Linked DNA regions of Homo sapiens: regions 1 and 2 are each linked to region 3. The links come from fine-mapping of genetic effects on gene expression. A gene starts in region 3. Each other region holds a variant in brackets. All regions are shown on one strand. Distances are between the middles of the regions.

Region 1 (2,764 bases), 3.9 kb after region 3:
GGTGAGGGAGTAGGAGACACAGAAGTGGATGGACTGTCCCCACCCACAAGGAGGGGTGAAGTGGGGGGGGTGTTATACAGATATGCAAGTCACTGAGCTCAATTGTGGTAGAGAAAAGGCAATGAGGGCCCAAATGGGTAAATGGCATTTGGGGAGAGAGGTGGATTCTTAAACTACATCACAGATGATGATAGGAGCAGGAGGGGGAGGGTTCAGATGTGTCCAAGACATATCTACAGCAGAGAGTATGTAATGATAAATAATAGTGATCTCTTTTGAGATTCAAACAGCCAGAGGTTAAGTCTCCACTGGTATAGTGATAATAGACTAAGCTCTTTTTTTTTTTCTGCCAAATAATGTGTTGAGTCCTGGCTGGAGGGCCTAGGAGTACTTTAGAAGATGGATTCTACTCCTTACAGTGTTGCCTGTTGGTTCTAGAAATGGAGCCCTTCTCCAAGTATTTCTCTACCCCATTGGTCTGATTCTCCCCAAGTTATTTGTGTTACAGACACTTCTATGGGTACAAAACTTTCCCTTTGGCTATCTCTGATACCACAAATGTCATTGAAAAGGACAGATCCTAGCACTAGGCCATATACATTGATAGGAACCAAAGACAGATATCTGATAGATTAATAAATACAACCACTTCCAAAGGTGATGGTATGAAGCTAGATTCAAACAACACAGTAGGCCAGTGCTGTCACTCCCAGCTCAGAACCATTGTGGCTAGAAGTTAGCTTTGTCTTTCTCCTCACTGAGCCATGTGTCTCAGACCCTGGGGTAGAGTTGAGGGAGGGCAGACAATGGTTAGTTTCCAAACTCCCTGGACATAGGGGCCCCTTGCTGCCTTCTGCCTTCCTCCATAGAGTTTAGAAGGTTTGTTTCCAGGAAGGAGCTCCTTCCTGCCAGGTTTGTCCTCTCTCCAGCTTCTCAGCAGTGCAGGGTGCTTACAACACAGCCCACAGGCCTGCCTGCACTGGGCTGTGTGGGTCTGTAGACAAGGTTCTCAACTCTGCCTCTGCGTCTGCTCCTCTCCGTCCTACTGGGCCTTTCTGCTCCCCCTTACCTTTCCCTGCCTGAGCCCTCTCACTGTTTTTGTGCCTGCCTTTGTTGTAGAATTCTAGATGGCAGCATGCTTGCAACTTGGGAAGGATGAGGCCCTTGTCTGGAGACATTATCCCTATGAGCTCTGAGGTCTTGTCTCCTTCTGTAGCATCCCCACCAATGTGGCCAAAGCCAAGGGCCCTCATCTGATCAGTCCTCCTGATTCTGGTCCAGCCACTGAGCCCTAGGTCTACTCAATTTCATGGCAGGATACCCAGAAGGAGGGAAATGGCCTCAGCCATTCTCATTCCTATTTAGAGAAGTGCATTCTTCACCATCATCCTTCCTACCTTTTCTTCTTACCCACTGCCCAAGGACTTCAGCAATGAAAAAGTAGCTTCCCTTCTCAAAAAAAAAAAAAAAAAAAAAAAAAATCTGAAAAATCTTATTCTGATTGCATCAATAGACCTACTAACCTGAAAATGAGTTTGGTGCACAAGTAACAGGTGAAAATCAGCAGCCTTTTACTGCTTACTGTTGCAGAAATTCCCAGCATTGGCTGGCGGCTGGAGGGGAAGCAGGAAGGGA[G/A]GTGTGCCTCTAGCTCCCTCTACAGGGCTGTGCCCCAGGAGGACAGGAGAGCCAGGCTGAATATGTTCCAGGGTCACCCAACTCTGTCCTTGTACAGTTAGCCAGGCCTTTCTTTCCAAAAAGAGTATCAGTTAATTTGTGACTATGGACTCGAATATCCTGCCTCCACAAAATTGTTCATTCTGTCCCCCATTGGATGACTTGTACGTGTATTTCATATTTCATACCTAAATGAGTGATACATACATTTTACTATCAACATTGCTAACATGCATATTTTGGGAATATCTACATGCTGTTCCTTGGTGACAATATTTACATGGTTACACACCACACCACAGGGCTCTTACATTCACACTTACACTTTGGATCCCATCTCTTGAGTTGGGAAATTTTGTCTATAAGTTGTTGAGCAACTTCCTCGTTATTTTAGAAAGCGTGGGACCCAGTGACTTCACAGTTCACAGTCATGTAAAGATATAGAATGGCTCCCTGGTGTCAGGGGTGGGATGTGTGCACTCCAGCCCTTCCCAGACTTCCTGAGGTGTATAAACCTGTTGTGTGGCATGGCTGTTGTTCCGTTTGCTCCACTGAATTAAGCATGAACTATTCTTTTGTGATTCAGTCTGTTTATACTCCTCCCAAGATACTCCTCTGTTGACTGTCTGGACATTGCCAAGGATGCTGGCCTTGGAGTTCTTTGTAAAATATTATTGCAGTTAGGTTACGTGGACAATGCCGTGCTCCTTTTGGGACTCTCATGTCTAGAGCCTCTTGTGCAACAGGGGCTAAATCTAAGTGTAGAAGCAGAAAGCACACTTTTCTCCTTTGCAAGGTCAGCATGAGGATTGCTAATTCATTATTTTAAGGTACTATTGGAGTGTCACTCTGTGGTGTGTGGGGTTTTGGCAGTGGTGGTCTGGAGTGTGAGGGCGGCGCTGAAGATTAGAGAGTGGGAAAGCTTCCTGTGTTTAGAACACTTCCAGCCTCTCCTCTGAGGGGTTTTTGGTGTAAAAAACTAGTCGAGTGTGGTTTACAAGAATGTGTCTTGTGTTTGTCGAGTGAGGTAACATTTTTTTCATCTCTAATTTATATAACTCTTAGGAGACCCATTCCTATGAGGCCTTAT
Region 2 (2,764 bases), 9.7 kb after region 3:
TGGGAGGCTGAATCAGGAGAATCGCTTGAACCCAGGAGGCGGAGGTTACAGTGAGCCAAGACCATGCCACTGTGCTCCAGCCTGGTGACGGAGTGAGACTCCATCTCAGAAAAAAAAAAAAAAAAAAAAGAAAAAGAAAATAGGGGGAGGGTTTATATCTTTTCAATCCTTTGTACCTTTTCAAAACACTACTTGCAGCTGTAAGGGCTCATAACTCCAGACTGGGTTCCCCATCACAACTGGTCTAATCCATACCACTAGCAGGGCTCCCACCAAATTATGGGGATTCTTCTCTGGTCACCTCTAGCTCAAGAGGGTACCTTGGGAGACAAACTCAAGTGCAGGTGCCAACACAAGAATCCCACCATTTGCCATGTTGGTATTTTTGCCCTGATTTTTCAGGTGCCCTGGGCTGAAAAATATCTCTACAAATAAATACATGGTGTGTGTGGTTATCCACTTTTGAGTTGTGCAGAGTTGCACTATATTTAGAAGCTTTTAGTACATGATGTGTCTAGGATTGACTTTGTAACATTCTTCCAAGGAGTCTTTGACCATGTAAAACCCACCAATATTCCTGCCTTTTAGCACATTTATTTCACCAGTACTTCTTCTGTGTGTGCATTTAATTCCTAGCCATTTCTTGCATGAGCAAATTGCCTAAATGCGCTTGTGAGAAACCCTTTTATGGCAAACGTTATTAAACTGAAAACAAGGGTATAATAAAATAGCAATTTAAGAGTAATTTACTAACAACTAGAGCCCTTAAGCATTGACATACCATTGTGTAGCAATAATACCAGACTTGGTATTTAAACACACTCTTTGTCACTCCAAAAATCATTGGGACAGTTTCCTAATCCTCATGGTCTTTAATTATAGCTCTTCTAATTTTTTTTACTACTCCTATGTCACTGGTTTACAAATTATAAATCATTAACTTTTATCCACATTAAACATCCATGTAATAGAACTGTTACATCTCTGCTCCTTATACAGAGAAATAACAAAGAAAATATTCAGAAAACATAGTAGAGGTGAGCTGACATCATCAAACCTTGAAGTTCTTGCACTTAAGTTTTCCACTGTGTCCTGAATCAGGTGATATTGGGGTGAGTAATGGTAGAGACTGGATCTCAGAAGTGATCAATTAATTGAAAATTCTGAGGATTCCTGCATCTTCCCCAGGGAGGAGAATTTGTCAAATGCAAATCTCAGCAAAGATTCTTTGCTCTCTGGAAGATAGTGTGGATGCCACAGAGGCCAGTGGGCAGTTGGACAGGACCTAGCCAGTGTGACCAAGTCCCTGCATGTAGGGTCTGGCTTCCGTTTGAAGGTAGAGATGTTCACGCTTGTCAGCACCCTGGGGATACTCTCCTGAAAGACTGACTCATGCTAACTAGAAAGCAGGGAGGTAGACACTGCAATGCTGGCTGGTTAATTTGCCACGAGGAGCCATCATCAGAGAGACCAGACGTACTCCAAGTCCATATAATCAGCACACATTGTCCTTGTCGGCAGGCCTCCACAGGAAGCCAAATCATAATCAGAAATTATGTATTAAGTTGCCCTGACAAATCATTATCACAGATTTTGGAAATACCTCAAGTCTCT[A/G]TGATCAGTTCATTCTCTCCTTGAGGGTAGCTGGGGAGCTAAATCATGGTCCAAAGGTTGTTTTGTGAGTGGATAATCAGGACGGGGGCGCTGAGGAAGGGAAATGTTTAGTGGCAACGGGAACTTCATGGGTCCATGCCAGAATGGGAATGGCTTTGCCAGAAAGACTGATGTATTCAAAACCAAGTGGCTAAAACTTCCTTTTACCTAGAGGGACAGTTGGATAGTGTATTAATTAACTTAGCAGCTTAAAACAATAAACATGTTACACAGTTTCTGTGGGTCAGAAATATGAGAGATTCTGGCTTAGGATTCCTCAAAATGGTATGTGGGCTGCAGTTGTCCAAAGGCTTATCTGGGCTAGGAGATCTGCTTCCAAGATGGTTCCCTCATATGGCTGGCAACTTGGTGCTAGGTATTGGCACGAGGCCTCGGTTCCTCACTACAAGGACCTCCCCATTGGGTTGCTTGCATGATGTCACAACATGGCAGCTGGCTTTCCCCAGAGTGAGTACTCGGAGACAGCAAGGGGAGGCCATAATGCCTTTTATAACCTAATCCATAAAGTCACATACCGCCATTTCCCCTACATTCTATTTACTGAAAGTGACTCACTGAATCCAACCTGCACTCAGAAGGAAGGGAATTAGGCTCCACCTTTCAAAGAGGTGTGTCAAATAAATAGTTAACATATTTTAAACCACAATAGGTATAACTTACATTGTCTCTGTAACTCCTTTTTATTATACTTCTGTTGCTCACCAACTGTGATTATCCATGTACTCTATTAATACATTTATATAATGTTTATAACTATTACATATTTGTATGCATTTATATGTAATTCTGTATCATATAACTATAGAACATCTAATTATGTTATAAATATCAATATATTTGGCTTATGGCCACGCTGTTGTAGCAGGACAGCCATTATGTATCTAATATCAAATTTGCCTACCTCCATTCTGCCACTTCACTAGCAGGGGGCTGGGGGCAAGTAACTTGGCCCATTTGTGCCCCTGTGCCTTCATCTGTAAAAGAAGGCTAGTAATAGGACCTACCTCATAAGCTTCTTGGGAGGATTAAGTGAGTAATTAAATGCACAGGGCTTAGAAGAGTGCCTGGCACTTCGAAAACATTCAATACT
Region 3 (2,764 bases):
TTATTCTGAATGTGGGTGAGGGAGTGGGTGAGGATGGGGAGTGCTGGGTTGGGAAGTTTCAGGAGTGAATATCAGCTGAGGTGGGGATGCCCTGGCTCCCAACACAATTAGCTTCATTCTGCTACAGTTGGGGGTTTTCTTATCATTAGTCGGGAAGGCCTAGCCAGAGAATTCCAGTATTCCAGAGCAAGTTTAATTGTGGGTGATTTCATTCTGCCCTTTTTATGTCGCAGCCAGGGGCTTGCGTCATATAACAGTGAATTCAGGGAGATTTTTATTTGCATGTGAATCATAGCTTTTCCAGCTGAATGTCACTTACTTGGAATTTTTGTCTGATTTTGTTTTTGTTTTTGTCTCTTGGTGTTTTTCCATCGGGCTCTTTGGCTAACCAGAAAAAAAAAAAATAGAGGAAGGGCTCAATCTGACTGAAACAGGGTTTGAGTTGGCAACTCAAAAGGAGAGTATTATGAATGTGAAAAAAAGAAAACGGATGCTTTATTTTGCTTTGAGGGAGGGACCGAAGCCAAGTCAAATTGAGAGCTCTAATTTGGGAATAGTGTTATTACAGGTCATTGGGAGTTGGTTACGCGCTAAATTGGGAGGCCAGTCACATGAGGAGGCAGCAGAGGCAGATCACATGGGGGACAGTTGGGGCCCTTTTATAATGAAATTTTGTTTTATTTACTACACAGTTGAAATGTACTTATGTCATTTTGAGAAACCAAGTCACCTTATTGGCTGGGAGTTGCTCCCTGCCCTGGCCCATCAGTTGTTTGATAAATAAGCCAGTTCTTCCAATCTTTGTGCTTTCCGGGGCTTGATTTTGGCAGTGGGATCTGTGCAGTGATTCATGGAGCTGACCCTGTGATAGGGGTTATACATCTGCCCTTCCCCTGACTGACTCCAAGGGGCTTGATCTCTTCTCCTCCAAAGGCTCTACCCATTTTAGACCTCAAGGTCAAGACATACAGAAAACTTCTAACATTATATAAAGAAGTGATGACCTTTGTTTTTTAGATTATCTTCCATTTTCTCAGCACTGTTCCTCTTAATGTCATCTTGCAAAATAAGAAAGAGAAAAGATGGATCCTGCCCCTCCATGGGCAGTTATGAACCAAGTATTTCTTCTTACCTCAAAACTGCAGACTTTGGATGTTCTTGGCATCTCGGGGAGGACCAGGAAGGGTGGTGTGTGGTCAGCTGCTGATTTTCCTTGAAGAATCAAAGTTGGCATTCTTGGTGTCCACAGCCCTGATTAGTTAGCTGTGTTTGAAATAAAAACAAACAAAAAAAGGCAGCCAAAAAACAATATCTAGAATTCAGTTAATTCATTCCCACTGCAAACAAGTTGTGCTCATGCTCCTAAATGGGGTATGTTACTAAGCCGGTGACACAGAGCATCTGGGCCGGCGATGCTTGTGATCGAGGTTAGGAATAGAAGGTGTGTGGAAACTTTCTATAAAAGGCAGCCAGGTCCCCTGGACAAGGGGTCAGGAAGCTTCAGCACTGTTCACGGTGGCACCAGGGCATTACTGCATGATTTGGGGCAAGTGTCTCTGCGCCTTGGTGTCCCCTAAGTGCCGTATTGATTTGGGGGAATGGGAGGGTAAGGGCCTCAAGAAATGTTTGAGATGTAAAATGTTAAATGTTTGAGATGTGACATGTAAGATAAGTGGAGGGAGCGTGATGTCACAGGAGCTCAAATCAGGGCCACGTGTCCCTGAATGGGGCTGGGCTGCTGTCCCTTCTCAGGCATCACCCTCTGTGGCTGATGCCTCTGACATCATAATACCCAGCCAGACACTCAATAATGATGAGCTGTGCCCAGTGGACACCTGAGGAGGGAAGAAAAGGAGAAGGACAAAGTGGAGAGGGAGGAGATGGAGCAATCTCTTATGTGATCATTCCATCAACTCACAAATTTTTCACCTAACACCTGGTTCAACTGTAATGTGCTCAGCTCCGTATAACCTGGACAGCAGCTGTGCCCTCACCCCTAAACTCAGCAAAATATTATGGTCCTCTAATCAAGAGAATTTTGCTCCTGTTACTGCATGTCTTGTGGGTTCATCGTCAGACCAGTGAGTTGATACCAAACTTCACCAAACGGTTCTCCGGAGCAACCGTTTAGAGGTAACGTACTGGCTCTCACGCCCAGGCTTCTCTGGGCTTCTGCAGACTCATCTCAACTCTCCTCCTTGGAGCAGCACATAACTGGGGATTGTGTGGGGGTGGTTTGTGAGGGTGTGAGCCTGTGGTAAAGATGCTTTAAAACTGAAATTCTCACCTTCGTTTGATTCATGAGCCAGCACAGGCTTGGCCAGACTTTGTTTATTCTTATGGCACTCTTCAAACCCAAACGGGCCAAATCGTGGCTTCCCTGTCTATCCTTAGATGCAGCGATTGCTGCTTTTAACTGGGTAGGTTGCTATGAATAGAAAACTTGAGAGATCAGCCCTGTCTTAGAAATATTATGACATTTTGCTTATTTATTGTTGACTTAAAAAAAAATCCAACAACTTCCTCTAAAAATAGGTCCTTGCCACTCTTTCAACTGCTTCCTCCTAGCCTTTCTCCTGGTAAGAAATCATGGTTCCCACCTGGTTTCACATCAGCCTTACTCGATCCTCCAAATGCTATCAATTGGAGGCCATGATTTTCTTGGGTTCTCAAATGTGAACCTGGATCAAAATCATCAGGGGGCTGGTTAAACACAGTTTTTGATTCAGTAGATCTATAGAGAGGGTCCCAGAAGTCGTAATTC

Evidence for each region. PIP is the estimated chance that this variant, and not a neighbour inherited with it, causes the effect.
Region 1: its variant is the best candidate, but not a certain one, in a credible set for the expression of SAMD4A-AS1 in whole blood (INTERVAL, PIP 0.70).
Region 2: its variant is the best candidate, but not a certain one, in a credible set for the expression of SAMD4A-AS1 in whole blood (INTERVAL, PIP 0.58).

The regions. Positions count from the first base shown.
Region 1 is chr14:54,690,095-54,692,858 of GRCh38, forward strand. The region is part of intron 2 of SAMD4A (sterile alpha motif domain containing 4A); the gene reads left to right. Among named protein-coding and RNA genes, the nearest start is that of SAMD4A-AS1, 3.6 kb to the left of the region's middle. The variant G/A (reference allele first, on the strand shown) is at 1,636.
Region 2 is chr14:54,695,845-54,698,608 of GRCh38, forward strand. All of the region lies in intron 2 of SAMD4A (sterile alpha motif domain containing 4A), which reads left to right. Among named protein-coding and RNA genes, the nearest start is that of SAMD4A-AS1, 9.3 kb to the left of the region's middle. The variant A/G (reference allele first, on the strand shown) is at 1,615.
Region 3 is chr14:54,686,168-54,688,931 of GRCh38, forward strand. SAMD4A-AS1 (SAMD4A antisense RNA 1) reads right to left here and starts at 1,743. Exons shown (of 3, transcript NR_187163.1): 1 at 1,133-1,743. The region is part of intron 2 of SAMD4A (sterile alpha motif domain containing 4A); the gene reads left to right.